Homo sapiens: one gene and its partners. The protein of the gene in region 3 binds, or shares a complex with, the protein of the main gene of each other region. Each region holds a gene or a part of one and is shown on either strand. Other genes may lie near its edges. A codon is read from its position in the direction of its gene.

Region 1 (7,675 bases), on a different chromosome or scaffold from region 3:
GCCCATTTTCCCAAGGAGGACATTGATGTCCCGGGCAGGACATCGTCCGTGGCCTTGGCAGGATCCTCGGAGCTGTTTTGGGCCTTTTTGTTGTGCCCAGGATGAGGCAACCTCGGGGGAGCCTGCACAGGTGTGTCCGGGCTCGGGAGCACCTCTTTGGCACCCACTGGCAGCTTGCTGCGCGGGAGGTAGCGGATGCAGGTTGGAAACAGCCCCTAGGAAATGAGAAGGTGTTTCCTGGAGGCCTGCGCCACTCAGCTTCCTGGCAGAGGAAGGAGCGTTTCCCTCATCCTGGCCCGGGTCCCGGGTCCATCTGCTCCAGGAAGGCTCTGGTGGCTCGTGATGAGCTGCCCTGTGAGAGGGAACAGGGTAGAGGCAAGGCCTTGGGGGATGGCCTCTGCCTGGATTTCATGGGGAAGGATGCAGGGCCAGGGCTGACATTTTGTCAAATCCAAGCAACTTTGCAAAAAAGTCCTCCTCTCACGCTCCGCCCTCTGGAATCGAATGCTTCACTGTCCTTCCCTGGCAGAGGGCCTGGTCCTGTGAGGGTTACATGGCCAGGCGGTTATCTCCGTGCTGGGTGCCTGATGAGAGCTCAGTTGAATGTTAGCCGTTGCTGTTTCCAGGCTAAACTATTGTCTTTTTGCATGATTTCTTCTGCACAGAGTGTTGGTAGCTTTCATCAGATCTTTGTAGGGTCTGTGACCCCCAAACCGTTCAGGACACTGGCCTAGACTCTAGGTGTCTGTGAGGCCAGAAGCCCCTGGATGCATCTCTTCCTGTCAGGGCCTGCGTCCCTGGGGCTCCTCTCTGCTGAGCTCTGGGGTTTCACGCTTGCCCTGCCAGCGCCGACGTCCCTGCCCGGGGTCTGAGCTGTCTCTCCTCTCCATCCTCCAACAGACCGCAGAGGCCGAGACTCCGTCAGAGCTGTGAGGGAGGCCCGGGCCAGATGCCAGCTTGCCAAGGAGGCCGATTAAAAGCAGCCTTGCTGGGGGCGGATGGCTCAGTGCCCTTGGCCTGGTGTAGAGTTCGATAAGCAATTGTTTTCCTGTTGGTGAGAAAAAAACAAATCTCCATTGACTTTCCCAGGCACTGCTCAGCCTCATTTTCTTCTCAGGAACTCTTGCAGCCCTATCAGAGGCAGCTCTAGGATAGGGGAGAGACTGACTGCCTGCCCTGGGGGACGCAGGCCACACAGCCAGGGCTGAGGGACACACTTAAGAGCAGGCCAGCTCGCTTGGACATTGGTCCTCGTGGGAACATTCCAGAGCATAGGCTACCTACCAGAGCAGGCCATGGGCATCTGTATTAGTCCGTTTTCACGCTGCTGATAAAGACATACCCGAGACTGGGCAATTTACAACAGAAAGGTTTAACTGGACTTATAGTTCCACTTGGCTGGGGAAGCCCCATAATCATGGCGGAAGTCAAGGAGGAGCAAGTCCGGTCTTACATGGACGGCAGCAGGCAGCGAGAATGAGGAAGATGCAAAAGCGGAACCCCCTGATAAAACCATCAGATCTCGTGAGGCTTACCACCATGAGAACAGTATGGGGGAACCCGCCCCCGTGATTCAATTATCTCCCACTGGGTCCCTCCCACAACACACGGGAATTATGGGAGTACAATTCAAGGTGAGATTTGGGAGAGGACACAGAGTCAAACCATAGCATCCAACAGGTGTTTGTTGAAGTAATAGTTTTTGAGTACTTAACCACTTGCAGGGCATGATTCTGAGTGCTTGGTTCATCTAATCCTATGACTATCAGATGGGCACCAACTTTACAGGATGTCAATGACCTTAAGCTGTTGAACTTCAGGGTATCTTGAGTTTCCTCTTCTGGGACATAAGGACCATGAGAAGGAGAAGTAAAGTAGCAGCAGCTAGGGCCATAGAGAAATATCAAACTTGAGTTGTATTCTCTCATTGATGGGGAAACTGAGACAGGGACAGAGTTGATGATTTCTTTCTGAGATACAGTAAGGGGGAATGGGGGACAGAGAAATAGGAGATAAGACCAACTGCTCCCCTCTCCTGACCTCCTGCCCCGTCTGATCCCGTAGCATCCTAGGCCTTATCATCATAACTCCGATCATGGTTACAGGTATTTTCTTTCCTTTAAAACACTTTTTATTTATTTATTTATTTTAGATGGAGTCTTGCTCTGTTACCCAGGCTGGAGTGCAGTGGCGCAATCTCGCCTCACTGCAACCTGTGCCTCCCGGGTTCAAGTGATTCTCCTGCTTCAGCCTCCTGAGTAGCTGGGATGACAGGTGCCCAACACCACGCCTGGCTAATTTTTGTATTTTTAGTAGAGATGGGGTTTCACCATATTGGCCGGGCTTATCTGGAACTCCTAACCTCAAGTGATCTGCCTGCCTTGGCCTCCCAAGGTGTTGGGATTACAGGTGCGAACCACTGCATCTGGCCTGAATTTGACTATTCTAGATACTTCATGTAACTGAAATCTTACAACACTTGTCCTTTAGTATCTGGCTTGCTTCACTTAGCGTATGTCTTCACGGTTCGTCTGTGTTGTAGTGTGAGTCAGAGTTTCCTTCTTTTTTGTGGCTGTATAGTATTCTGTTGTATGGCTCTGCCACATTTTGTTTATTCATTCGTCTGTTGATGGACACTTGGTTATACCTTTTGGCTATTGTGAATGATGTTGCTATGAACATTAGTGTACAAGTATCCGTTTGAATCCCTACCTTCAATTCTTTTGGGTCTATACCTAGGAGAGGAATTGCTGGTTATATGGCAACTCTACGTTTAACTTTTTGGGGAGCCACCAGGCTGCCTGATTGTAGTTTGAATTTGCAGTTCTCTTACTGTGAGGTTGAACATCTTGCCGCATGATTGGACTCTTTGGCGTTCTCTTACCACACACTCTGTGTGCATGAGTCAGGCCCGTGTCAGGGCTGGGGCGTTGGGTTTTCCCTTTTGCCTTTCCTGTTGGGCTTTCCCTGCCACGTGCCTGGCGTAGTAGCTATTTCATCAGTTCTTCTGGAAGGACCGTTCCGAGAGCGCTGAGGGCCATTTTCTGCCTCTCAGCCAGATCCTCCAGGGAGCTCTGGCTTTCCGCTGTCTGTACCTTCCTCTCTTTTACCCCACTACCTCCCAATGTCATCGGAGATACCATTTTATTCATTCATAAAATCTCTGCTGAGCCCTCACTGTTTTCCTGGGACATCTAGAGAGACCCCCCCCCCACCCCGCCCTTTTTTTTTGAGATGGAGTCTCCCTCTGTTGGCAGGCTGGTGTGCAGTGGTGCAACCTCAGCTCACTGCAACCTCCGCCTCCCAGGTTCAAGCAATTCTCCTGCCTCAGCCTCTCCAGTAGCTAGGATTATAGGCATGAGCCACTACACCTGGCTTATTGTTGTATTTTTAGTAGAGACGGGGTTTCACCATGTTGGCCAGGATGGTCCAGAGAGACCCTTTGTGATGTGGGTGATTAGCATGGAGTGGCCATCATCCACAGGTGTCTGTCCACAAATGTACTCCCTGAATTCCAGTGGTACCTGTGACATTTGTCCAGCAGAATTTGTCAAACACGTTAAGCAAAGGTTAATGTTCTGTCCCAGAGACGGTAAGAATTGACAGCCTAAGGGGATGTGTTAATCTTTTTTATTTTTATTTTTTGAGATGAGTCTTGTTCAGTCACCCAGGCTGCAGTGCAGTGGTGCGATCTCGGCTCAGTCATTGCAACCTTCACCTCCCGGATTCAAGTGATTCTCCTGCCTCAGCCTCCCGAGTAGCTGGGATTACAGGTGCCCACCACCATGCCCAGGTAATTTTTGTATTTTTAGTAGAGATGGGGTTTCACCAGGTTGGCCAGGCTGGTCTTGAACTCCTGACCTCAGGTGATCCACCTGCCTTGGCCTCCCAAAGTGCTGGGAGGATTACAGGTATGAACCACTGTGTCCGACTTCTCTCTCTTTTTTTTTTTTTTTGAGATGGAGTCTCACTCTGTCATCCAGGCTGAAGTGCAGTGGCGTGATCTCGGCTCATTGCAACCTCCGCCTCCCGGGTTCAAGTGATTCTCCTGCCTCAGCCTCCTGAGTAGCTGGGACTACAGGTGTACATCACCACACTTGGCTAATTTTTGTATTTTTAGTAGAGATGGGGTTTCACCATGTTGGTCAGGCTGGCCTTGAACTCCTGACCTCATGATCCACCCGCCCTGTCCTCCCAAAGTGCTGAGATTACAGGCGTGAGCTGCCGTGCCTGGCCTTTTTTAAAAAATTGAGATATAAGTTCATGTAACATAAGTTGGCCATTTTGAAGTGTATAGTTCAGTGGCATTTAGTACGTTCACAATGCTGTGCAACCATTACCTCTATCTAGTTTCAAAACGTTTTGATCACCCCAAAAGGAAAACCTGTGCCCATTAAGCAGCCATTCCCCACACCCACTAATGTCACCACCCCCATAGTCCTAGGCAACCATTAGTCTACTTTCTGTCTCTGTGGAGTTGCATATTTTAAAAATTTCATATAAATAGAATCATATATATGTGACCTTTTGTGACTGGCTTCCTTCAGTTAGCATAATATTTTAGAGGTTCATCCATATTGTGGCATATACTTGATTCCCCCCGACCTTTTTTTTTTTTTTTTTTTTGAGACAGTCTTGGTCTATTGCTGAGTTGCTGAGGCTGGAGTGCAGTGGCATGATCTCGGCTCACTGCAACCTCCGCCTCCTGGATTCCAGCGATTCTCCTGCCTCAGCCTCCTGAGTAGCTGGGATTACAGGCACACGCCACCATGCCCGGCTAATTTTTGTATTTTTAGTAGAGATGAGGTTTCACCATGTTGGCCAGGCTGATCTGGAATTCCTGGCTTCAAGTAATCTGCCTGCCTTGGCCTCCCAAAATGCTAGGATTACAGGTGTGAGCCACCGTGTCCAGCCCTGACCTGCATTGTTAATGCCCAGCATTTAAAAATAAAAAGTCAGGCAAACTTATTAACCTCCTTAGGGCTTCTCTTGGGAAAAACAAAGGGAAGACCAGCAATAGTAGGCCCAGATTCCTGCCGAGCAACAATTGGCTTGAGCTGGAAGCAGCTGTCAATTCTGTAGGGGATATGTGTGCTCTATTTGGGGGTTTTCTTATACTTGTTCCTATAGGAATTGAGTTAGGAATTATTGTCATGGTATGTGAGAAGTGGTTCCAGCTACTTGGGAGGCTGAGATGGGAGGATCACTTGAGCCTAGGAGTTCAAGGGTACAGTGAGCTATGATCGCACCACTGTACTCCAGCCTGGGCAACAGAGAGAGGGAGAGACCTTGTCTCAAAAAAAAAAAAAAGAAAAAAAAAGAAAAAATAATAAAAGAAAAAATATAAGAAGATGCAGACTCTGCTTTTCTGTATAGACTCAGAGATCAGATCACACCATGTTTTGCAAGATTTTTTTAGGATGTCAACTGGAGGCAGGAATTAGACAGCAGCCTGGGCCAGGAGGAGAGGGGATCCTTTCCTGTCCCTGCCCGTAGGAGCTGGGCCAGCTGACCCTTTCTCTTTCTGCAGGTGGCTCCGCTGCCGGATGGGAGTGCCCCAGTGTGCTGGATGAAGCTGGCGCATGCACCATGTCATCATGTGTCTCTAGCCAGCCCAGCAGCAACCGGGCCGCCCCCCAGGATGAGCTGGGGGGCAGGGGCAGCAGCAGCAGCGAAAGCCAGAAGCCCTGTGAGGCCCTGCGGGGCCTCTCATCCTTGAGCATCCACCTGGGCATGGAGTCCTTCATTGTGGTCACCGAGTGTGAGCCGGGCTGTGCTGTGGACCTCGGCTTGGCGCGGGACCGGCCCCTGGAGGCCGATGGCCAAGAGGTCCCCCTTGACACCTCCGGGTCCCAGGCCCGGCCCCACCTCTCCGGTCGCAAGCTGTCTCTGCAAGAGCGGTCCCAGGGTGGGCTGGCAGCCGGTGGCAGCCTGGACATGAACGGACGCTGCATCTGCCCGTCCCTGCCCTACTCACCCGTCAGCTCCCCGCAGTCCTCGCCTCGGCTGCCCCGGCGGCCGACAGTGGAGTCTCACCACGTCTCCATCACGGGTATGCAGGTGCGTGAGCCGGTGGTGAGCCAGGTCCTAGGGGTCCCTGGTGCCCTTCCCTGCCCCCAGCAGGGCCTCTGTGGAAGGTTGGGCTCCCCCAGAAGGATCTGAGTGCCACGGTTGACCTAGGAGTTGACTCCAGGGAACCTTGGGGGCGGCTGGGGCCAAAAAGGGGCCCTAGGGGGGTCGTGAATCAGCATGGGGAAGGGAAGGCAGTCAGCAAAGGGTGGGTCATGGAGCCGATTACCAGTGTGGAGTGTGGGCCGCTGGGGCTTTTTCCTTCCGTGGGACCCTGGGGAACAGCACAGAGCAGCAGCCTCAGTCATCCCACCAGGGGCAAGGGAGCTGGGGTATTTATACTCATGGGTGAGGGCTGCTGGGGCAGGTGTGTGTGACCCCCTGTGGGTGTGGACAGAGCAGTTGCAGGGCCGGAGGGAGCCTCCAGCAAAGAGACTGAGGTGTGGGCGAAGGTGTGATGGAATGAGGCGGGTCACTGAGAGCCTGGCGACGACCCGCCTGGCCGAGCGTGTGTTGGCACCAGGCACTGGGTTCAGCACTTGCTGTGCATTTCTCACAGGACCCTTACCGTAAACCCTGCGGGGATACAGAGAACTCAGATCCTCACCAGGGTTCACAGGGCCCTGTGTGGTCTGACCCTTTCCCATCCCTCCTGCCATTCTGCTGCCAGCTCCCTAAGCTCCCTCTGTTCCTGCCTTCACATTCCTCGGAATCCAAGCTCTTGCCTTGGGTCTGTACTCTCGCTGTTCCTTCTGCTTGGAACCACCTCCCCCACCACCCCATGCCAACTTTGTAAGGCCTATTCCGATAATGTCCAAGTCTCAACTCCAGTATCACCTCCTCCAAAAGGCTTCCCGGGCCACCATCCCTAAAGCACCCTCCAGCCTCTCTCTGCCCCATGGCCCTATTTGCTTTCCTTCATAACGTTAATCAGCATCTGATTATCTGTGCGTTGGTTTAGTTGTTTATTGCCTGTCTCCACCCAGCCAGAACGTAAGCTCCATAGGATCATTTCATCCACCTCCACACCCTATCCCATCCCCAGAGCCTAGCACAGTACCTGGTGCATAGTAGGAGCGCAAAAATATTTGTTGAAGGAACGAATGAATTTAATTGGAAGAAGACCCAACATCAGGATGCCTTTCTAAAGGGGCTTTTTTTTGTTGTTGTTGTTGAGACAGAGGGTTGCTGTGTTGCCCAGGCTGGAGTGCAGTTGCGTGATTTTGGCTCACTGCAACCTCCACCTCCCAGGTTCAAGCTATTCTCCTCCCTCAGCTCATGAGTAGCTGGGACTACAGGTGTGCACCACCATGCCCAGTTAATTTTTTTTTTTTTTTTTTTTTTTAAGTAGAGATGGGGTAATGCCATGTTGGCCAGGCTGGTCTCGAACTCCTGACCTCAGGTGATCCACCTGCCTCAGCCTCCCAAAGTGCTGGGATTACAGGCATGAGCCACTGTGCACTGCCAAAGGGGCTGATTTTGAAGGGGCTATAGGGACTACATTTTGAAGGCCAGGAAAAACTTTCATAATTGGAGATGAAAATTGGGCCCTGGAGAGTTGAGAGGAGGGAGAATTCACAGCATGAGCCAAAAACAGAGCTAGGAC
Region 2 (8,086 bases), on a different chromosome or scaffold from region 3:
AGAGCCCACCACACGGCAGGGCATATGCTGACCACCTGAAATCAAAACAAACACTCCCTCCAAATCCATCCTTTCCGACTCCTTACCCCAGGACAGACTGGGGGCTGCCAACAACAGGGCAGGGGCTCAGTCTCGGTTCCACAGCCCCAAGCTTAGGTGGAGACTGGGCCCCTTCGCCCTTCAGTTCCCCCATCCCCAGCTAGTCATCAATTCTGAGCCTCGGAGGAAAGCCCGGCCACAGCCTGTCGCCCCGCTGCCTCTCAGCAACGGCAGTTCTCTCGGCCTCTGCGGCTCCTTCGCGCCCTACATCAGGTATTAATATATTACTCATGGCAGCTTCTGAGCTATGAAAGCCCAGCCGTTTTCAATAGAGAATGGTATGGATGAATTCTACAGGAGTGATGAAATGTTTCTTCTGCTCCGGCAATTAAGACAGCATAAAGTCGCCTTTCCTTTGGTGCCACCCCCAACATTAAAGGATTGGAATTCAAAGCCATTCATGCTGCATTGAAACCTCACAATGAAGCTGGAGAATGGAAGTCGATTACTGGGCATAAATATGCAGTAGTTAAAAGGAAAGAGTTATAACAAAATTAAACTGCAGCAACCCCACAATGTGTGGAAACTTCCAGCACTAGAGTCCTCCTGGTAAACATCCATAGGGCATTCTTCTCAACGAGGTCTCTGGCCACAGAGTCCAGATGGGCTGCCTGAGCCGCACGTGGCCAGCGTGCCAGGTTGTCCTGTCCATCTTGCTACAGCAACAGCCCCCAAGGCCTCCGAGAATATGGCATTTGGGGATTTTTATTTTGCATGGCTAGGAAGCTGCTGAACACAGAACATTCTCTCTGGTGCAGGGCTCCGAGGCCACATCTGTCCTTCGTCCCTAGGCCTTCCAGGCCCATATGCAGTCCAGTCATCTTCCCTCCACCCCGTCCCCTTAGCCCAGGGCTCCCCCGGGGGCATGCCTGCTGCCAGCTCCCCTTGCAGGAGAAAGAACCCTAAAGAGGGCAGCGTTACATCTGCCTGCTGAGTACAGCCGGCTTCTTTTCTAATTGATTACTGCTCTCTTTAGGATGGGATTTGATCTCTAAAATAAAAGCCCAGAACACAGAAAGCTATAGAAGTCTTACAATGTGTTGGGGTGTGTGTTTTTAAGGCATGAAAATACTTCCCTCCCACACAAATGTGAGTTCTTCTGGGGAAAGATGCCACAGATCCCAGAGAGTAGAATATCTGGGAAAGCCCGATCAGTCTTAAAAATAGGTAATTGAACACAGATTTTAGAATTCACAAGAGCTACCTGAAAAAAAATTAAATTTCACATATTTTTGATATCCAAAACTCCATTCTGATGAAACTTCTAACTCGGTGGCATTTTGCATTTCCAATTATAATAGAGTAATTGTGTTGCCATAGTTACTGCAAAATTCTGCAATAACTTTTGTTGCTTTGTAACTGCTGTAGTGTATATTTGTGTACAAGCAGCTGAGTTTTCTTAATTCGATCTCCCTCCCTTCCACCCTCCCTCTCCCCAGCCACCACCACCACCTTTCCTGGCTAGGTCCTGAAACCACCACACCAGCCTTCTTTGGACAGTCCCGAAAATAATGCACAGAATTATCAGAAGCAATTAAAACTCCAGGCAACCACGATCATATTACAAAAGAAAAAGTGAAACCAGGTCAAGGTGCAAACCTGCCAGTATCCCCCCAGTCCTGCTGGGCTGGCGCTGGGCCAGGACTGTTTACAGGCTTACTCCCAGGCCTTAACTGCTTCGGTGATTTGTGGGAATAAACAGAAAAGCCTGAACAGAGAAAAACGGGGCGGCAAAGTGACTGCACAGGCCCTTTCCTCCCTCACGGAGAGCAAGCAGAACTGCTCTCAGCAAGCAATTAGGTAGGTCTCTACAGTCATGCAATTAGGATTTAGTGAAGAAAGTCATTAGTTTTAAAATAACTTAAGTTTAATTTCTGCAACGCTTTATTTGAAAACTGTGTCACAGCAGGTCAATTTACAACATGCAATAAAGAAAACACTCATATCAGCTGCCTCAAGTTATTACAAATTTTTGATGTGCATTAAATGAGTACACTGGGTTCCACCCCCGGCCTTTCCAACTGATACGCACGGTCTCCTCCTATAACAGTGTCAAATAATTCAACGCTCAATGTAAATACGAGATAATTTGCTTATGATTCCGTGGTGTGTTTTCGCAACGCCGGCAAACGCGGATCCCACCCCCGAGCGGGACCGGGCCCCGTCTCGGCCTGCTGGCGCCCTGCGGGCTGAGCCGAGCGGGTCCCGGGCAGCCCCCCGCCCTCCCGCGACCCCCCGGGCGCTCGCAGCGGCGACGACAAGCGCGGGGCCGCGGACCCCCGGCAGGGACGTTTTTCTGCAAACTCACAGCATTTGACAAAGTTACATAAACGGCGCCCGGCCGGCCCCGGCGCCCGCCCGCCCCCGCCCTCACTCCCGGCGGCCCGGAGCCCACCTGCTCGGGGGGCGCGGGCCCCGCACCGGGAGACGGCGCCGCTGCCTGCCGTGCCCACCCCCGCGCCCCCGCCCCGGCGGGCGAAGCCGCCTCGCGGCGCGGGTGGAAAGGTCCAGAAGGGGCCGGGCGGCCCTGGGGACCGGCGGGTCCCACGGCGCGCGGCCAGCGCTGGCCCCCGCCTCCCACGGCCGCGCGCGGGGCGGGTGTGGACCGGCGGCGTCCACCTGCCGCGGGCTCCAAGGCCTGCAGGCTGCGCGGGGCGCGGGGCGGGCGGCGGACAATGGCCCGCGGGCGCCGGGCCGGGGCTGCGCTTACCGCGGCGGGCGGCGGCGGCCGGCTCTAGCCCTGCTCCGGCGCTCCGCGCCGCATCTCCTCAGCCTGCGCCGCCACCCGCCGGCGCGCGGGCTCGGGCTCGGGCGGCGACAGCCGGGACGCGGCCACGGCGCCGCCGGGGGCCCAGGCTGGGAGGCTGTTCGGGCGGCGGCGGCGGCGGCGCGGGCGGGTGCGCGGGCTCGGGCTCGGGCTCGGGCGGCGGCGGGGACGGTGCTCCGCGGCGGCGGCCCCACAACCTCCCCTCCTCATTCACAAAAAATTGACCCACGTTGAACCATGATGCTTCTCCCCACTCCAGCGTCGAGCCAGGCGGCGATAGGCCACCCCGCACGCCCGTCAGCCGGCCCGGCCCCGCCCAGCCAGCCGGCGGCTCGCCAACCATTGGCTGCGGCAGCCTTGCGTCACCTCCCCTTGCGGGCCCCGCCCTCCCGCCTGGTTTCTAATGAAGAGCTCGTCAATTACGGCTCGGCCCCGCCTCCCGCCCGCCCGCCCCGGGCGCCTGGCCGGCCTTCCATTGGCCCGCTGAAACCTGCGCACAGCCCGTCTGCTCCCACCCCTCGCCCAGCGGCTGCTCAACCGCGGGGCCGGATGCCCTATGAGCGGCAGAGAGGCTCCACCCCTGCCCGCCTCCCCGCACGCGTCCTGGACCTCATTGGCTGCTGGAGCTGCCAATTCTAGAGGGTGGGGCGTACCAAAAGACGCTCCAGGCGCCAGCCGCTGGGTGCTTCGCGGTTGAGGAGGCGCAGGGACCGGGGGCCAGTAGTGGCCGTAAACACGGGCCCCGGCCGTGTCCGGTCGCACTCGGTAGCCCGCATGGCTGCCTAGCGGTCAGCACCGCATGTCTGCGAGCCTAATTCGCGCTTAGAGGGCACACAATGGGGTGCAGGCTAACGCGGGGAGCCGGCCAGGCCTCGCCGCGGCGTCCATCTTGGATACTGGCAGTGGGTCACGTGGTGCTGCGTGCGCACGGAGGCGCAGGGCGGCCCGGTCACTGAGTGCGCAGGCGCCGTGGGCCTCGCCCTGCCCCGCGGCGGGAACGCGGCCGTGAGGGTGTGGGGTGTAGGTCCGCCAGGCCTGCAACGGCTGCCGAGGGTCGTGGGATGCGCTCGCCGCGTCCCTGCTCAGGCGGAGGGAGCCCGGCCCGCCGCCAGGGTCTCGAGTCCGGGTCCAGGCAGGCGTGGAGGTGGCGGGAACGGCGCACCGCCCGGGTGGGCGTTGTTTTAAGGCCGCAGGGCTTGGGAGGCTTGTGTTGAGTTACAGGTCGGCCCGTAGATCCCCGGAAGCGCCTTTGGTTGCCAGCAGGTGTCGGCGAGGGTCTTCAGTGGCCACCCTCCTGGTGGTGATGTTTCCGTTTCTTTCCAACAGGAGTATGACAACTTTTCAACTTGAGTGCACACACTGTCCCCGGAATCCCGCGTTCCAGGGAGGAAGCGCCTTTGACAGCGCGCGCCGGTTCGTGGGGCCCGACGGCGTGGGCCTGTGGTTGCGGACCTGGCGGAGATGCGCGTTCGCTTCGATTGTAGGCCATTCCTTTTAGGAGCTGAGAAAGGATCCGTTTTTACAGCATTCTCGACCTGTGATTCTTGGTGGGGGAAACTAGTTATGTGGATAAAAATACAGTTAGCAAAATAAAAATGCCAATTTTACATTTCCTTAAATATCTCATTAATAATTAGAAAACTTTGGTCATTGCAAGAAATGCTTAGGCTAAACTTAGAAGGAAAGGAATGGTGAATTAGAGAACTTTAAAACAAGATACAGCTGAAGAAAAGGAGAGCAATTACGGGGTTTTGGAGACTTGGCTGCTGATGGAAACGGTGCACTATCTAATTTTCATGTAGAATGAAACAGGGTCTGTAGCTAGCTAACATCTAGATAAGATTCAGTATCATTTGACAGGATTCTCAAAAACATACAATCACGAGAAAATATTAAAACCTGCCTGTAAGTCTACCAAAGTTAGTTTTTCACGTACAAAGAGAAGTGCCTGCGCAAAAAGTCACGTGAAACGAGCTCTGGGATCTAATGCTTGCAGAGGTAATTTTTAAAAAGTAGATTTCCATTAGAAGGAATGGGTAGCCCCATTGCTGCGTGCCATTTAGTCCTCACAGGAGTCCTGAGAGGCACTCCAGCAGAGTGAGGCACCACGCAGACGTTGGGTGGATGGTGCAAGAACCTCACTCGCCATGTCTGGAAAAGAGAAACTTGGCCTGGGTGGCTGTGTCTGCCATTATGTGTCAGAGGGGCTGTCTGAAGGAGACCGGTGCACAGCCAGTGCAGAGCAATTCAGTACGATAGTGTGCAGTGAAAGCAAACACGCTATCCTGTGAGCTGTGTATAAGGAGAAAGGTGGGGTGACAACCCCAATGCCTGGGAGCATTCGCGCTTGGGACTTCACATACAGGTATTTGACAGAGTCAAATGAATCACACTCAAAGGAATCTCCGTGTTCTCACAGTTGAAAGAAACCAGCATCAAAGACTCAAATTTTAAAATCTAGGGTTGGTGGATCCAATAAATTGGTAGAACTCCTAGACTGGCTACGATCGGCAAGCTGGCCAATTATAAAATATACAAATAACAGTAACTTTCAGATAACTGACAACATTCAATCGGTAATTAAATAATTGTTGCATATTCAGTATGTGGTGAGCTTTGTGCTAAGCACTTACATATGTGTTAGAAAATATGAAACATTCTCAATTAGCAAAAACATTTTAAGTACCTAAATGTAACAGTAAGTTCCAACAGAACTTCCTGGGAATTGTGAAAATCGTTAAATAGTTCATCTGGAAGAATAAAGATTTGAGAGCAGTCAAAAAGAAGAGTAATGAAGGAGAAACTGTGCTTCCAGAAAATAAAAACATGTTATCTGGGCTCCGAAATGAAAACAACGTGATATTGGCCCAGATCAATGCAAAATAATAGAAAGTAAAGGAATGGCCCCAAGCAAATGTACTGACTCCAGGCTGATACCCAGCCGATATGTGTATGATCAGTGTGCTCCAGCTGTTCTTAATGGGCAGCTTTGCAGGCTGGTCAGTGCCTGTGCCTCACCAACTATTGACTAGTTTTAATACCACCCCTGTAGGGATTTAAAGTATAATGAAAGTGGCTTTTCAAATCAGTGAGAAAGCAATATGGTAGGGTACCTGCTAATCATTTGAAGAGAAGATATTAAAGTTGAAATCTTTACTCATCAAATGGAGTAAAGACTTCAGTTTTAAAAAAAGTACTAAGGAAAAACTCTGGACATCTCTATAGGGTTGTGGAATATAAAGAATATTGTCAACAGTCATAAAGGGAAATAATTGAGAATTTAGCTATGTTGTAATTAAAATTTAGTGTATAATCAGTGGGAAAATGGATAAACCCCAACTGCAAAATACAAGGGAATATTACTCAGCAATAAAAAAGAATGAACTGTTATAGACGGTTGAACGTCAAGAACATCATAAAAGATGTCAGATACAAAAGGGTTTACACTGTATGACTGTTAATATGAAATTCAGCCAAATATGGGGTAGAGATCAGAACAGTTCTCTCCAGATTGGGGGCCTACAGAGGGTGGACTGGGAAGGACACGAGAACCTTCCCGGGCAATGGAGATAATACACTTTCTGTCTGGGGTGTAGATCGCATAGGGGTACGTACCGATCAAAACTCGTTGAATTTAAGAGCTGTGCCTTTCTCAGGAAGATTTTAATTCAGAAGAAAAAAAAATTGTTGAAGGCAGTGGCTGCCCCAGTTTGGAGGGGAAGGGGGGACTTCTGGTGCTTCAGAACACAATAAAATTAAGACAAGTGAGTGGGGAAAGCGTTTGCGTGGGATTCGTAGAGGCTGATCTTCACAGGCAGGAGGGTTTTCAGAGCGGAGCAGCCCATACATAAAGCAGGCAGGGACAAGGAGAGGCAAAGACAAAAGAAGAAACGCCCATAAACATGACAGGATGTTCTCTAATAAAAGAAGTGCAATGCTTTGTTTGATAAAAGCAAATGTGTGGAAATAAACGCTATTATACAGCAACTGAGTGTCAACTGATAGAAACTTTCAGACAGCTACTTAACCACACTCATAAATAAAACCTGCAAAATTTGCACCTTCTTTCACCTAGTGATTGCAATTTTAGAACCTCATTCAAAGAGACAAACATGGATGCTGATAAACATTTAGCTAAAAGGTCCACAGAAACAATGGTTGGTTGGGATGAATATGTATGCATATATCACCAAAAATAAGGGGTTTTATATCAGGGAAAGAAATTCACTTTATAGTTTCAAGGGAAAAGAAAGACAAGAAGACCTCATTACAATGTGATGTAATTTTTACAAATGAAAGCATTTATAGACACAAAAACAATGAGGAAAAATGTGTCCTCTTCTAAGTGGAAAATGAGAGATTCTTGTTTTCTTTTGCTCACTTGTTTTCTTAATTCTTCAGTGAACATGTTTTTCTTTTGTAAAAAAATAATTATTTAAAAAAATTCAAGAAGGACATGAAGTTCACTAAGGAGACAGCAAGGTCTGAGAGACTCTGTCAAGCGGGCACGAGCCGGGGGCTGTAGGACAGATGTGGGAGGTGCAGCCTGGGCTGCAGTGGAGGGAGCAGGGGTGGGGTAGTTCAGGGCTCTTCTCACAGCCCTAAAACTTTCTTTTTTTTATTATTATTATACTTTAAGTTCAAGGATACATGTGCACAATGTGCAGGTTTGTTACATACGTATACATGTGCCATGTTGGTGTGCTGCACCCGTTAACTCGTCATTTACATTAGATATGTAATGCTGTCCCTCCCTCCTCTCCCCACCCCACGACAGGCCCCGATGTGTGATGTTCCCCAGCCTGTGTCCACGTGTTCTCATTGCTCAATTCCACCCTATGAGTGGTACGCACTATTCACAATAGCAAAGACTTGGAACCAACCCGAATGTCCATCAATGATAGACTGGATTATGAAAACGTGGCATCGATACACCATGGAATACTATGCAACCATAAAAAAGGATGAGTTCATGCCTTTGTAGGGACATGGATGAAGCTGGAAACCATCATTCTGAGCAAACTATCACAAGGACAGAAAATTACAGCCCTAAGACTTTCAACTCTTCCATATCTTTCAGCGGACCCTCTGCCCTCCAACACTTTAACCCAAGACCTGCTCCAGATAGGGATGACACAACCAGCTCATTGAAATAAGTAGCAAGAGACCAACAAAACAGCTGGTGATGGACGCTCCCCTGGGTCCCCTTGCCCAGCTTTC
Region 3 (7,736 bases):
ACTGCACAATACAGTACTTCTGTCCTGGTTACCCACAAAGAACTATCATTCTGCACAGATCCCAATAGTGTTAGCACTAGGATAATTTCATTAAACTCAAATAAATTTTAATCCCTTTATCAACAGGATGATTTCGGCCTTAAAAGAGAGCTCACTTGAGTGGTAAGATTGGTTTCTTTCTCTGCAGTTTCCAAATTCTCCACGATGACTTTTATAAACAGGAAGAAAATTTCTTAGGTAGTTGCCATTTTGGAACACCTACTACATTTCTTATTGAATCCGCACAACTTTTTCAAGTATTGTCCCATTTTACAGATGAGGAAAATGAGGGACAGAGCCTATTTCCTTAAAGTCACAGGAAACAGATTTGAAAAAAGGTTTTTATTTTACAAACTGTTCTTTCCTCTATACTGTGAAGGAGCAGAAGCACAAATCTAGTAAAAAACAAACTTCCCAAATCTCAACTTAAAAGGTTTTGGAACGGGTTTTCATTCCCTACTAGTAACTGAAAATGACTCAGTAGGAAGTCATCATTTTTTTAAGGTTTTTATTAAAACCTGCCAAATTAATTATCTGCAATAAACACAAGTATACATCCCATCTGTGCACTAGTGTCATAAACTATATTCTTGTTTAAAATTTCTTTTATTCCATAAATTATCGTTTAAAATTTCTACTTTTATTCCATCATTGCCCAGTATTTTAAATAAATGAGATGAATGTTTAAAAATATAAAAAAGCATCTTATAAACTTTTGTGAGAAAGCTAGCAATAGGGTGAACAAGGCCTAGCTAGAGGTCACAGATTTGCATGTCTAAGGGTAAATGATATCCTTATTTTTTGGACTAATTCTCATCTAGTGGAATATGAAGTGCTCGATTCCACCTGGCTTATCGGCTAATTTCTGCATTACCTTGGATAAATGCCATTTGCACACTCCCTACCAGCCCTTAGGTGCATTGCAGCCTCTGTGTCATTGTGTGTGACATCACTTGGTTGCTATGGATATAGGTGCGAGGTCACTCGCTTTCCTGTGGAACTAGAAATATGGAAAAGAAATATGGAAAAATTATAAGAGTCTAAATAACACGAACTGAAGATATTTCCAATACTGATACCTATTAGAAGTGCAACTTACATCATTTAAGCATTAAAACCTTGTAAGACAGCAACTGTGGCCACAGCAGTATTCCGAATTTCAGAATCAGTTCTCTTCAATAAGACAAAAACCTTTCTTTGTTAACATAGCTGCTTTAAATATAAAGGTATCAGCATTGTCCTCTTTTGAGAACCAGTAAATTTATTCAAGAATTGATCTGTAATATCAATAATGCTTCATTTAAAAGATGTAACACGCAAGGTACACTCCAGCATCCACTTCACAATGGAGATGAATTTGAAAATCTTTGTTACATAAGGCAGGAAATTAAATATTAAGATAGTGGGGGCCCGAAATCATTAGATTAATTTTCTACCTTTCATTTCATAATGCTCAATACTTCCCCCTCCTCTAATATCAAACTGGTTGACAGCCCATTAGATAAATGTGGTGTTACTGACAAAATGGTGCAATACAGGGATGAATCTGCAACCCAGACAAAATGCGACAACTGGCGATCGGTATTCTCTTTTCATCAGCATGAAGATGTACTCGCTTAAACAAAAAAAAGCCTCAGATGCATCTAACAACCAAAAATTTTTAAAAAGACTTTTTCCCCTTTAAAATAACTCCTCCCAGCCTCCACCCAGTCTAGGCTCTCTGCAATATGACAAATGCAGAATCTTCTGGAATGACTTGATACTGCCTCTCACCACGGCTTTGTTTGCACTATCAGATCAGACAGAATATTTTTTCCCCCAACTTATAGGAATTTCAACAGACGCGTGCCTGTATTCAAAAAAGAAACGGCATATGTCACACGAATCGAACCAGTCAGCTACATTCACCACCTTTTAATTTTACAGGCAATACCTACCCTTTTCAATACAAAAACATTAGGGAATAAAATGGAGATGACATGTTGAGAATGATCAATGAAAACGCTAGCGAGACAAACGTTCTCCCTTCCTAAAAGCCGGAGGACTTGCTTTGGGCGAATGGAGAAAGAAGAGCCTTTTGTTAAGAAAAACGTGAGCAAGGTGGTTTCGATTTTGCACCACGGAGCTCAGGTTTTCAAGAGACCCTATACAATGTTTCTGGGAAGATTCTCAGGGATGTGTCGGGACAGACAGTGGGGAAGATTCTGGGGGGGCTGGGGAGGTGGAAAACCGGGAGACCTGCTGAGTGAATGGGAAAGGCGCCGCCCAGACACCAGGGAGAGAAAGAGGAACCGCATCCATGCGGTCCCCCGCCCCCACGCCCAGGCTAGGAGGAGGGGGGAAGTGGGGCACAAAGGATGCGCACGCCTCCCCGCTCGGGTCCCCTGCACCCCTAGAGCCGCGGGGGCCGGAGACCCCGCTCCCAAGTCCAGCCCCGCGGGACCTCGCCCCGGCCCGCGCCCGCGCCGGGCCTGAATGGCAGCGCCGCGGGGCCACGGGGACTCCGAAAAGAGGCCGCGTCACAGCCCGGGTTCCCGTCGCCTCTCGGGACCCTCCCCAGCCCCCCTCAGTGAGCGAGACGGGGCGGTCAACCCGCCATCGCGACAGGGCGACGAAGCCCCGGGCCTTCCACGCCAAGGACCGCGTCTTCGGAGGGGCAGGGAGCGGCGGGGGAGGGGAGGAGACACTCACGTTCTTCATGGCCGCGGCCATGTCGTCGTAGCGCTCCGCCTGCTCGGCCAGCCGGGCTTTCTGCACCAGTTGCTCGCGGTCCACCATCTTCGCGGGGCTGGGTCTGGCCGGAGAAGGAGGAGGACACTGGGGCGGCCTGAAGGGCTTGGAGGGCGCGACTGGAGCCCAAGTGCCGGAGAGGACCGACCCACAGAGCGAGCAGCTGAGGCGGCGGCTGCGCGGAGGAGGCGGCTGGAGCTGCGACCGCGGGACCGGGCGCGAGGCGGCTGCGGCTGCTGTGCGTGCCACTGACGGACAACCCCCTGCGGCCCCGCCCACGCCGCATGACGAAGGCAGGCCCCGCCCACCCGTCCGCAAGCCCCGCCCATGCCCCGCCCGAGCCCGGCCGCGGCTAGAACTCCCCGCTCCCCAGCTGGGCTCACTGCGCGTCTTCCGGGCACCCCGTCCTTTCCCACTGCGCCCCCACTCTCCCCTTTTTTCACTTCACTCCCCAGTTCCCTCACCCCAGCTTCTCCAGTCGCCCCCTTACGCCTCCCCCTTGAGCCTCCCGCCCCGCCAGCCCTCGGACGCATGGGCCCCTGGGAGTTGTAGTGTAACCTGCAGTGCACTGAGGCGCTGAGGAGACCAAGGACAAAGGGGCGGTCAAGACTACAACTCCCAGCGGACATAGCGCGCAGGCGCAGGAGGACGGGGGGGGGTGCTTCGAATCCCGAGGCCGCTGGGGACCCCTGGCGGGGATCAGGGCTGCATCAGTCCCTGCGAGTGCTGATTCACCGCCCCGCCCCATATTCTCCGGGAAATTACGAGAGGAGGGGGCAGGGGCCTCAGTCCTAGACCCTGTTTCCGAGATCACGTAGCAGGTCGTGGTGGGGGAAGGACAGGAGGCGCGTCCATTGTAGATCCAGACTCTCAGTGTGGTGCCTGCCCGCGGGATGGCCGAATTAAGGGGCCAGACCCTGGGGACTGTCACCTCCACCCCCTACGAGCTTCCATTAAACCCCCCACCCCACCTTGAGGCTCTTGGGCCTGAATAGGTGAAAACATGGACGAACGACAAATACCGGCTGGCCACAGTGGTTGATTTCCAGAAAGGATGCAGCTGTCTGCTGGCTGACCCTGGAGAACCCCTTCTTCCTCTCCAGGGTGGAGTGCTAAAGATTGAGTTCAGCTACCAGGAGCCTACTCCACATCTAACTGGGCTGCGTCTAGGGCTTGGTTGTCCAGCCCTTCTCTCCCCTCCTAAGACATACATACCTACTGAGGTCACGCTGATATATTCTCGTTCATATTATTCCACATAGCTTGCAGATAGCATGGGTTTTTTTGCTTTGTTTTGCTTTTTTGTAGAGACGGGGGTCTAGCTTTGTTGCCCATGCTGGTCTCGAACTCCTGGGCTCAAGCGATCCTCACGCCTCGGCCTCCCAAGGTGCTGGGATTACAGATGTGAGCCACCATGCCTGCAGGCCTGATAGTTTTGACTGCACATTTTATTTACTTTATGTATTCAACAATTATCTATGAGAAGCTACTGTGTTCCAAGCCCTATTCTAAGCCACGAGGTACAGTAGTGAACAAAACAGACAAAAATCCCTGCCCAAGAAAATAGGTGAGATATGTACAGTATGCTAGAAGTCAGTAAGGAGTGAGTTTTGAGGTTGCAGTGAGCTGAGATTGCGCCACTGCACTCCAGTCTGGCGACAGAGCAAGACTCCGTTTCAAAAACAAATAATAAAATAAAAAGTTTTTTAAAGGCTGGGCACGGTGACTCACACCTGTAATCCCAGCACTTTGGGAGACCGAGGCGGGCGGATGACAAGGTCAGGAGATCGAGACCATCCTGGCCAACATGGTGAAACCCTGTCTCTACAAAAAATACAAAAGAACTAGCTGGGCGTGGTGGTGCCCACCTGTTATCCCAGCTACTCGGGAGGCTGAGGCAGGAGAATCACTTGAACCCGGGAGTCGGAGGTTGCAGTGAGCTGAGATCCCTCTACTGCACTCCAGCATGGGTGACAGAGCGAGACTCCGTCTCGAAAAAAAAAAAGAAGTGAGCTTTGGCCTGGCACGGTGACTCACACCTGTAATCCCAACACTTTGGGAGGCCGAAGCGGGTGGATCATCTGAGGTCAGGAGTTCGAGACCAGCCTGGCTAACGTAGCAAAACCCCATCTCAACTAAAAATACAAAAATTAGCTGGGTGTGGTGGTGGGCACCTGTAATCCCAGCTACTTGGGAGGCTGAGGCAGGAGAATTGCTTGAACCTGGGAGGTGGAGGTTGCAGTGAGCCGAGATCGTTTCATTGCACTTCAGCCTGGGCAACAAGAGCGAAACTCCATATCAAAAAACAAAACAAAAAAAAAGTGAGCTTTGCAGACTCTGCTGCTGCCAGGAGTACTCTACTACTGGCCATGGTCAATCCCACCGTGTTCTTTGACATTACTATTGAGCCCTTGGGCTGCGTCTCCTTCAAGGTTAGGGGCATGGAAACCAAGAAGCCAAGTGACCTCTCCGGAGCTTGCAGTGAGCCGAGATTGTGCCAGTGCACTCCAGCCTGGGAGACAGAAAAAGACTCCGTCTCAAAAAAAAAAAAAAAAAAAGAAGTGACCTCTCATCTAAACTGTAAAGCCATGTTAACATATCGGAGCTGTTAGCAGACAGTGTTGTAAAGACAGCAGAAAACTTTCGTTCTCTGAGCACTGGAGAGAAAGGATTTGGTTATAAGGGTTCCTACTCTCTCTTTTTTTTTCTTTTCTTTTTCTTTTTTTTTTTTTGAGACAGAGTCTCGCTCTGTAGCCCAGGCTGGAGTGCAGTGGTGCAGTCTTGGCTCACTGCAACCTCTGCCTCCCGGGTTCAAGCGATTCTCCTGCCTCAGCCTTCTAAGTAGCTGGGATTACAGGCGCGCACCACCACGCCCAGCTAATTTTTGTATTTTTAGTAGAGACGGTGTTTCACCATGTTAGGCTGGTCTCGAACTCCTGACCTCATGATCCATCCGCCTCAGCCTCCCAAAGTGCTGGGATTACAGGTGTGAGCCATTACGCCCGGCAAGGGTTCCTACTTTCACAGAATTACTCCAGGGATTATGTGTCAGGGTGGTAACTTTACACACCATAATGGCACTGGTGGCAAGTCCATCTATGGGGAGAAATTCGATGAAGAGAACCTCATCCTGAAGCATACAGATCCTGGCATCTTGCCCATGGCAGATGTTGGACCCAACACAAATGCTTCCCAGTTTTTCATCTGCACTGCCAAGACTAAGTGGTTAGATGGCCAGCATGGAGGTCTTTGGCAAGGTGAAAGCGAGCATGAATATTGTGGAGGCCATGGAGCGCTACGAGTCCAGGAATGGCAAGACCAGCAAGAAGATCACCATTGCTATGGCCGGGCGCGGTGGCTCACGCCTGTAACCTTAGCACTTTAGGAGGCCGAGGTGGGCAGATCACTTGAGGTCAGGAGTTCGAGACCAGCCTGGCCAACATGGTGAAACCCCTGTCTCTACTAAAAATACAAAAATTAGCTGGGCGTGGTGGTAGGTGCCTGTAGTCCCAGCTACTCCAGAGGCTGACGCAGGAGAATCGCTGGAACCTGGGAGGCAGAGGTTGCAGTGAGCTGAGATTGCACCATTGCACTCCAGCTTGGGCAAAAAGAGTGAAACTCCCTCTAAAAAATAAATAAATAAATAAAATAAAATCACCATTGCTGACTGTGGACAACTCTAGTAAATTTGACTTGTGTTTTATCTTAACCACCAGACCATTCCTTCAGTAGCTCAGGAGAGCACCTATCCATCCACCCCATTTGCTCCCAGTATCCTATCATCTTTGTGTTCTTGCTACAGTTCCCTTTGAGTCCCATGATTTTCTTATTCCCTTCCATGTCTGGGTGGATTGCAGAGTTAAGTTTGTGACTATGAAATAAAAACTAAATAACAACAAAAAAATCAATAAGAAGTGAAAAATAAAATAGGAAACATGAAGTGTGGATGAGAATGTGGAATGAAAGAGTTTCCATGGGGGAATATTGCAGGCTCTATGCCAGATGCTGGAGGACCCCTGTCCTCAAGGAATTCAGAGTGTGTTAAGCACTGTAAATATTTTGTTTAAAAAATAACTTCTTTCAGGCTGCATAGGAAGAGATTCTGAAAAGCTTCTCCAGGGAGTTTGGTAACATTTCCAACCCAGCCTTTAAATGAGTGTAGGATTTGAGAGCAGGCAAAGGCACAGGTAGCAAGACTCAAAGGCAAGTTCCTCCCTGACTTATTTATTTATGTACTTATTTTTTAGAGGTGGGGGTCTCACTATGTTGCCCAGGCTGGGGTACAGTGGCACGATCATAGCTCACTGCAGCCTCTAATTCCTGGGCTCAAGTGATCCTCCCACCTCAGCCTCCTGAGTAGTGGGGACTACAGGCATGCACCACCACACCCATCTCCCCTGAAATATTTATTGATAGGCAAAGAATCTGATGTATCTGGTGTCTGGGTGATGGGTAAGGGGCTGGGGATAGAGTCAGGGGCCAGAACATGAGGGGCACTGAATGGCAGCCCCAGGAGTTAAATTTCTATTCTGAAATTAATCGGAAGCCTGTGAAGAGATTTTAACAATGGCAGAAAATGATCAGATTTGGGTTTTGTCTTTTTCATCCTCACCTTGGCTTCTCAGTGCTCAGCAGAGTACCTGGCACATGATAAGTACATAGAGAGAGAATAGGAAATAAATAAATGAATATGGCCAGGTGCACTGGCTTACGCCGGTAATACCAGCAGTTTGGGAGGCCGAGGTGGGCTCATCACCTGAGGTCAGGAGTTTGAGACCAGCCTGGCCAACATGGTGAAATGCTGTCTCTACTAAAAATACAAAAATTAGCCAAGCGTGGTGGCGTGTGCCTGTAGTTTCAGCTACTCGGGAGGCTGAGGCAGGAGAATCGCTTGAACCCAGGAGGTGGAGGTTGCAGTGAGCCAAGATTGTGCCATTGCACTCCAGCCTGGGCGACAGAGTGAGACT
Region 4 (7,675 bases), about 41 Mb from region 3:
TGTTGCCCAGGCTGGTCTTGACCCCTGGGCTCAAGCAATCCTCCCCACTCAGTCTCCTAAAATTCTGGGATTACAGGCATGAACCACCATGCCTGGCCTTTAATTTCAATCCAAATAAAAGCCTTCTATTTTCAGTTTTTTAATCTCTTAACATTTATTATAAAATCTATTAAAAACTCTTATCTTTATATTTAAATATATTTTATATGTAATATGAAATAATAAAATATCAACAGTGATTCTAATTGTTTAATTTCAATCCAAATAAAAGCCTTCTACTTTGAGCTTTCGAATCTCTTAACCTTTATTATTAAAAATCTATTAAAAACTCTTCTTATATTTGTATTTAAATATATTTTATATGTAATATGAAATAATAAAATATCAGTAGTGGTTCTACTTGTTGATTTTTCAGAAGCTAAGAACTATATGAATCTATACCATTATATACTGTAAAATCACAAATATATGTAATATATACATATATACATATAGTGATATATGTGTGTATATATGCATACTTATACATGTATACATGTGTATATATACATATTTATGTGTGTGCATATATATGTATACATCCCCAAACTATCTTAATTTAACTTTAAATCCAGTAATACTTTACAATAGAACATTCTTACCTCTGCCAGAAAAATTACTAAGCACCAAATTAGCACAAAAATTAAGCTCTTGTGGACAGTAATATATCGAAGGTATGTGTTCCATGTAGTCACTGCTGGTATGCTCTCCATATCATCAAAAAAGCACTCCTGAATAAAAGAATTATGGCTATTACAATAAGACAGTACAGTTTCATGCCACCATTGTGGTTTTATTTTTAATATATGAAAATAAAAGAATAGTATTACTTGAATCTAAGTGTATTTTAACAAATATAAATCATTATAAATGCCATGTATGATGTCATTCTATAGCCAGAATAATGTCTACTGGAGCAACACAGCTTTATTAAAAATGAGAAACATCGTAATTTTTCAAAATTCTAAAAATGTATCACTGATTATATAACTGTATTATTATTGGACAATTTTACCATTAAAGGCTTAACAGTGGCATACCTTTTATCAAATGAATGATACCATCTAAATGAAGTTTCCCAGAACTCTCTTTGATTTAACCTGTTTCTTCAGGGGTCCATGGACAAGTACAGTTCAGTATACTTCTAGCTATAAAGGTCTTCCAATAGACTGAAAGCTCATTTGTGTTTGAACATTTCTTAGTAACTTAGGACTTTCTCTCTTTCCAGCTGTGATTTAAATTACATAATTCTCATCCTAGGCATATTCCTCTAGAAATCTTTGTCTTTTGGCATAGAAATACATTTCAAAAATTTGAAAAAGAGAGATTCCAGACAGTCCAAAGGAAAAAGAGTTTTGTTTCTCACAAAATCAACAAAACTCATGGGAAAGTGCTATGAATCACAAAGAAGGGCTCCTATGGAATTGGGATATAGTGCACTGGTTAGGAGTATGCATTTTTTGAGTCAGACAGATCTGGATTTGAACCCAACCTCCACCATTAACATCCTAGGAGCTGCTTGAATTCAAGCATGTTGCCGAACTCTGAACTTTAGTTTCCTTATCTGCAAATGTGAAAAATTTTAAATACCTTCCAGGGTAGTTGTGGGGACTAAATATATGCCACCTAGCACTAGATGCAATCCATTAATAGAAACTATTATTAGTCAAGGATATCATTCTTTACAACTAAATTTTTAGGCTCAGGACTGAGAAATTCATTTAGATTGATATTAAACTATATAGATGGGCTGGGCGCAGTGGCTCAGGCTGGACGTGGTGGCACACGCCTGTAATACCAGCACTTTGGGAGGCTGAGGTGGGTGGATCACAAGGTCAGGAGTTCAAGACCAGCCTGGTCAACATGATGAAACCCCTTCTCTACTAAAAATACAAAAATTAGCTCGGCATGGTGGTGCATGCCTGTAATCTCAGCTACTCAGGAGGCTGAGGCAGGAGATTAGCTTGAACCCAGGAGGCAGAGGTTGCAGTGAGCCGAGGTTGCACCATTGCACTCCAGCCTAGGTGACAGAGCGAGACTCCATCTCAAACAAACAAACAAACAAACACACAAAAAAACACTATATAGATGAATTATCATTTAGGAAACCTTCATAAAGTTTAGAAATACTAAAATTACACACTTTAGGGATCTATTTTATTCCCTCATTTTACAAAGAAGGAAACTTCTGCCTACAGATGTTAATGGCTTGTGTCTTGTCAAAGGTCATATTATTCACAAATGATCTATACTATTAAACATATCAATTCATTACAACCCTGCCCATGGCTCATTTCATCCAAGGCATTAAGTTTTCTACTAAAACAACAAAAACTCTCCTTTTTATATTATTTCCTGTTTTAAAAATAAAATGCTTTTATTCTTAAAACCTAATAGAACAAAATTTCTGTCTGAAGATTGGCACTAGTACATGTTAAGCTTATATACATTCTCTAAAAGAAATCTTTTCAGAAACCCAATGTATAAAGCAAACTCACAAGATAAAAAAAAGCCCACACTAGCTAAATTCAGGCAAGACTGATATACAAACCAGAATGTGAGTTAGTCCTATCAAGAGGCTAAATGTTTATATACCTTATATATGCTACTTCCATACAGATTATTTTGCGAGCTATAAATAATGAAAGCTACTATTTATTTATACAGTTATTTATACTGCACCTCTTCCCACAGAGGGTTCAAGATGGTAATAAAGCAAATGCTTTCTAACTTATAGTCACAGTTATCACTGGCTTAGTAGAGGACCAAAAACTAAATCCTTTCCCATTTTATGGGAAGAGATATGTCCATTGCAAAAAGAAATCATTTGTTATTTTACATTTTAACGTTGCTTGTATAATTAATGAACTTCATACTTTCTGAGTTTTAAGATACACCTTATCCTAATCCTATGATTTTAGTAAATTTTGTTACATGCTACATATTGCATTCTACTCAATTGCATTCTGTGGGGTGAAATACCCCCAAGCGATGTATACCTACCTTTAAGTCTTCTTCGTTAATTTCTTCACTTATTTCCAAGCCAGTTTCTTGAGATAACCTTCTTGAATATATATCCAGTTCAGTCAAGTTTGCCTGAGGGGCCAGTGACACTTTTCGTGTGGATGCTGTTGTCTTTCGGTGAATGTTCTGACCTTGGTTAACTGAGTGTGTCATCAGGTTCAGGACAGACTGCCTCCTTCGTGCCTGAAGCGTGGGGCCAGTGCTGATCACGCTGATGCGAGGCAGTATCGCCTCTCCCTGCTCAGAATCTGGTACTAAGGACAGCCTTCTCTCTAAAGGCTCATCAGAATCCTCTTCGATGCCATTCATTTGTAAGGGAGTCTTTTGCACAATGGAAAATTTTCGTATAGAGTTGATTGGATTGAGAATAGAATTCTTCCTTTTTTCCCCAAACTCTCCAGTCTGTTTAAAAGATTGTTTTTTTGTTTCTGTCCAGGAGACAGGAGCATCTCCTTCTAATGAGAAACGGTGTAAGGTCTCAGTTAGGATTGAATTTCTTCTTTCTGCACTAAATTGGTCGAAAGAATCACATCCCATGAGTTTTGAGCTAAAGTCTGGCTGTAGATTTTGGAGTTCTGAAAATGTCCCATAAAAATAGCTGCTACCTTCATGCAAAATTAATATTTTGTCAGCTTTCTTTAAATGTTCCATTTTAGAAGTGACCAAAATCCTAGTTTTGTTAGCCATCAGTTTACAGACACAGCTTTAAGATATAAAAACATATAAATATCAATTTTATAAATACTTTATTGCAATATGTCTCGTATTTTAGCATTTTGTTAATGTTTTATTGCATATAATCTCTATCATACAATTTTATTATATTTTAAATGATTCTATAAGTACTCTGTAGTAATTAAATTGGTACCTTGTGAATTCTGATAGCATGAAATAACATGCTATATTGAAAAGTTGCATGTTAACAGACTGAGAATGAAATTAAATTTCCTATATTAAGTAGATATTTGACTTTGAGCAAATCATTTATCCTCGGGGTCTCTCAGTTTATTTATCTAGAAAATGAGGAAATTATTAGATGATCTTTAAGGTCCCTAGAGATTTGTACTTCATTTCTTTTAAATGTCAGAGCTTTGTTGCTCTTTAAATTTTCTATTAATTTCTTTTTTACATTTTAGGTTGACCATCAATTTATTTCTCAAGTGTTTACATTAAGACTAATCTGTTTCACTAAAAATAAAACAGCAATAATAACAACTGAGAATTCGATAATTAATTTGACTCTCCTCAAATAGAATTTTAATCTATTCTAGAAGTAAATCCTGACTAGAATCATCTAAGACATATCAGTTTTTTTAGGCATTAAAATGTCATATATCATATAGAAAGACACATTGTTCTAGATTATACTGTAACACACTAACACAATACAAATGTAGTAAAGTTTATATTGATAGAAGTTACTTTTCACAATCTCAGGGTTGAAAAGATAGTATCTTGGATATTAAATTTAACTAAATTCTAAGAAAGGTACTTCTAGGAATAACCCAGCCATTTTATATACATATACATCTTTATTGCTTAAAGTCTTTATTTTTAGAAGAGTATAATAACTGTTCTCCTAATAAACTACTTGATAGTCCATTAAATCATTTTGAAACTTTGAAATCAAGCCATATAACTGACTGTCTGTCTGTCTAGGGAATTTCATGTACATTGGACCCTAACAGGAGTTCCAAGGAAATATAAGTCCTGAGCTCTGTGTGACTGAGGAGGAGATCTCCAAGGAAGTATTGAGGTAGATGAGTAGTCTAAGCATATTAAACCAGTAAAACACTTAGCATATATATTTTCTTAAGAAGGTTACTATCTAAGGAGAAGACAGAATAAAATACTAACACAAAAAGTAAATAAAAATGTTAAGTATAATAATAATTAAAGTAATATATATCACAAGGCAATGATACTGCAAAAACTACATAGATAGCAATTGCTATAACAGTATAGCAATGAGAGAAACTGGTTTAGCATGAGGCGGTGAGAAAAGGTTTTAATGGAAGTAATCTTGAATCCTGGCCCAGTAGGGCAGATCAGATTTGAGTTAATACCATGCTACATTCTGCCATACCAACAATGGTGAACATATTTCTCAAGAGGTAAAATGCAATCTATGATGGGACAGTCTGTCTTTCTTTTATTTTAGCATGAGCATTATAAGTAAGGTATTCAAAGAACATACCTTTCAAATATTTCTTTTTCTGTTAAAACATCTAGGTATCCAAAAGGAGAGTCTAATAAATACAAATCAGCATCTTTGTATACTGCTCTAAAAAGAAAATGGAAATTAAATTACATTTCCTCTCTATTTCCTGGTCATCTAGTGTAGATGATTTGCCTTAAACAGTTCACTACATGCATTACAATATGGTCACCACATCGATTCACTGAAATAACACTATTCTCAAAAGTGGTGCAGAAGTAGCACTTTTATACATGTTTTTACTATGGTAGATTATTTTAAATGAGGAATAAAGGAATAAGTTGCAGAAGATTTTTATCACTTTTCACAACATTCCAAGAACTGCTGAAGTGATTTTGCTAACTGTAAGTGGCATAAACTAGCAAAAGTCACAAACTGAACTGTACCATAGCATACACTTTAAAATATTACCTTAAAAAATATTTTAACAATAGTATCTATTTAGAGGCAAGTACCATGCTATGTGCTCAAAATACAATGGCAAAAATTATACAGTTCCTGCCCTTGAAGATGTTGGGTTTTGGTGAGGACACCAAAAAGAAAATAAACTATTCCAAACTGTAAAATGTCAGAGACAGCTAATAAATTACATTACTTATGTGAAATTATTTTTAAAATGTTTTTCTAAGTGTTAACCACTATCAACAAATTGATAGCAGTGCTGCCACAACTGTATAATTGATATTGCATTTTGTTCCTTGTAGTTTCAGTCTCTATATCATATTCATAAAAGTTCCAAATAAGGAAAGTATGAGTAAGTCACAACAAAATGTATATCCATATTATTTTACTATTTAGCTAAAATATGAAACCATAAGCAAGTAAAATCTACATTGAGTTGACCTTAGAACAGTAATAAAGATGAAGACACAGTTCCCATATTAATAGAAATGAGATAATTTCTTCATAACATTTAAATTTTTCAGGTGTGATTGATAGTAACCTTACTTATATCTCAAGTACATAGGATTCTCTGTTTATACATGTAATTGTTGGTACTTCTGTAATAAAGAAAATTGTATTCAGCACACAATTAAGAAATTTTTAAAGCCAATTTAAAAATTTTTTTAAAAACCAATGGCAAAACTTTAAAAGTCTAAAACAACCTTTATAGTGTAACTTATTTTTGAAGACAGTATGCAAGAGCTACATAATGGATCCCATCAAAATGTACACAGTTTCTTCCCCACACTCTGTTCTTAATTCTCTCCCTCACATCTATGACAAGTTTCTTATGAGATTAGAAATAAGAAATTCATCATCCAAAACTGGACAACACATTACACATTCTGATCAGAATAAGAACAGACAATTATTTTTAGTTCCTCAAAGTGTGTGCACCTTACAGCAAAACCAAATCTTAAACTGATAACACAAACTCAGTTCTATGTTGGATGTCTAGAAGCCATATACTCTATCTTATCTAAATTTGTGGAATTCTTAGAATAAGTCTTACTTTGGCTCACAGATAAAAACAATCAACTTCCATTTATTTAGAAGCCTGTGAATTATCCGTATCTATTGATTTATTGCCTTACAGTGTATTTCCAAGATCAAAGCATGGTTTAATGTAAAGAATCAAAAGGACCTGGTTCAAACTGTGACTCTACCATTTTCCTGTATGGCTTTTGGCAAGTTAACATCTAACAGCCTCAATTATCTTATGATCTCTTCTGTAAAGCAGGGAGAACAATTCTTACTTTGCAGAGCTGTAAGGGGATTACATACACACAAAAGTACACACATGACTAGAATACTACCAGGCAATTGCAGGTGCTCAGTTAGGGTTAGTTTCCTGTCTCAGCTTTTGGAAAGCAACAGAAAGTAAGGGAAAGGAGCCAAAACATCAATGAGTCAATGTGATTTCTTGTTAACGACTTTGGCAACAAAGTGAGAAGAATTTTGTTCAGATAAAGCTTGAGAAACATTTGACATCAGAGTCACCAATAATTGTTTAAACTGAAAGTTACAGTTTAACCACAAAGCTCTCTCCTTGACATACATTATCTATATTTACATCTCTTTGACAGCTTTAAAATGCTTGGACCAAGAGTGTTTCTACTAAGGGACCTCCTCCCCCAACAATGTTAATGCATTTGTCCTGTTTATTTTAAATATTATAGATTTTAAGCCAAGTGACATCATTTGCCTTCCTATTTTGTTATGAAAATTATGATGAAAAATTTTGAAAATGTATGTTTATCTATACCAAGAAGCCTAAAGCTGGTGTGTACATTGGAGTGGCAGGGTCTATGATGGAACTAACAGATATTTACATCTTCTCTGTCCAGTATTATGCAGAATCCTAGAGTTTTCCATTTGTAGTAAACTATACTATGAGGCAAACAAATACACTGACACCAAGATACGGGCACAGATTCTGAGTAACCATAA

The links.
Region 1: the proteins of YWHAG (region 3) and CAMKK2 are in contact, whole or in part, in a crystal structure (PDB 6Y6B), measured with the Homo sapiens proteins. Residues at the interface, in NP_036611.2 of Homo sapiens: Ser46, Val47, Lys50, Asn51, Arg57, Arg132, Tyr133, Gly174, Leu177, Asn178, Val181, Glu185, Ile222, Leu225, Asn229, Trp233; in NP_001257414.1 of Homo sapiens: Leu99 (codon at 5,884), Ser100 (codon at 5,887), Leu101 (codon at 5,890), Gln102 (codon at 5,893), Glu103 (codon at 5,896), Arg104 (codon at 5,899).
Region 2: the proteins of YWHAG (region 3) and HDAC4 are in contact, whole or in part, in a crystal structure (PDB 3UZD), measured with the Homo sapiens proteins. Residues at the interface, in NP_036611.2 of Homo sapiens: Asn43, Leu44, Ser46, Val47, Lys50, Asn51, Arg57, Phe122, Lys125, Arg132, Tyr133, Gly174, Leu177, Asn178, Val181, Glu185, Leu221, Ile222, Leu225, Asn229, Trp233; in NP_001365345.1 of Homo sapiens: Ser348, Pro349, Ser350, Leu351, Pro352, Asn353, Ile354, Leu356.
Region 4: the proteins of YWHAG (region 3) and CFTR are in contact, whole or in part, in a crystal structure (PDB 5D3E), measured with the Homo sapiens proteins. Residues at the interface, in NP_036611.2 of Homo sapiens: Lys50, Arg57, Arg61, Lys125, Arg132, Tyr133, Leu177, Asn178, Val181, Glu185, Ile222, Leu225, Asn229, Leu232; in NP_000483.3 of Homo sapiens: Arg766 (codon at 3,237), Gln767 (codon at 3,234), Ser768 (codon at 3,231), Val769 (codon at 3,228), Leu770 (codon at 3,225).

The regions. Positions count from the first base shown.
Region 1 is NC_000012.12:121,272,441-121,280,115, reverse strand, and holds part of CAMKK2 (calcium/calmodulin-dependent protein kinase kinase 2), read left to right. Parts: intron 1-5,530; 5' UTR 5,531-5,589; coding exon 5,590-6,060; intron 6,061-7,675. UniProt on the Homo sapiens protein: Calcium/calmodulin-dependent protein kinase belonging to a proposed calcium-triggered signaling cascade involved in a number of cellular processes. Isoform 1, isoform 2 and isoform 3 phosphorylate CAMK1 and CAMK4. Isoform 3 phosphorylates CAMK1D.
Region 2 is NC_000002.12:239,397,883-239,405,968, forward strand, and holds the start of HDAC4 (histone deacetylase 4), read right to left. Parts: upstream 3,139-8,086; 5' UTR 3,096-3,138; exon of another isoform or gene 2,495-3,095; intron 1-2,494. UniProt on the Homo sapiens protein: Responsible for the deacetylation of lysine residues on the N-terminal part of the core histones (H2A, H2B, H3 and H4).
Region 3 is NC_000007.14:76,355,992-76,363,727, forward strand, and holds the start of YWHAG (14-3-3 protein gamma), read right to left. Parts: upstream 3,001-7,736; 5' UTR 2,818-3,000; coding exon 2,731-2,817; intron 1-2,730. UniProt on the Homo sapiens protein: Adapter protein implicated in the regulation of a large spectrum of both general and specialized signaling pathways. Binds to a large number of partners, usually by recognition of a phosphoserine or phosphothreonine motif.
Region 4 is NC_000007.14:117,588,025-117,595,699, reverse strand, and holds part of CFTR (cystic fibrosis transmembrane conductance regulator), read right to left. Parts: intron 5,348-7,675; coding exon 5,261-5,347; intron 3,767-5,260; coding exon 3,043-3,766; intron 771-3,042; coding exon 642-770; intron 1-641. UniProt on the Homo sapiens protein: Epithelial ion channel that plays an important role in the regulation of epithelial ion and water transport and fluid homeostasis. Mediates the transport of chloride ions across the cell membrane.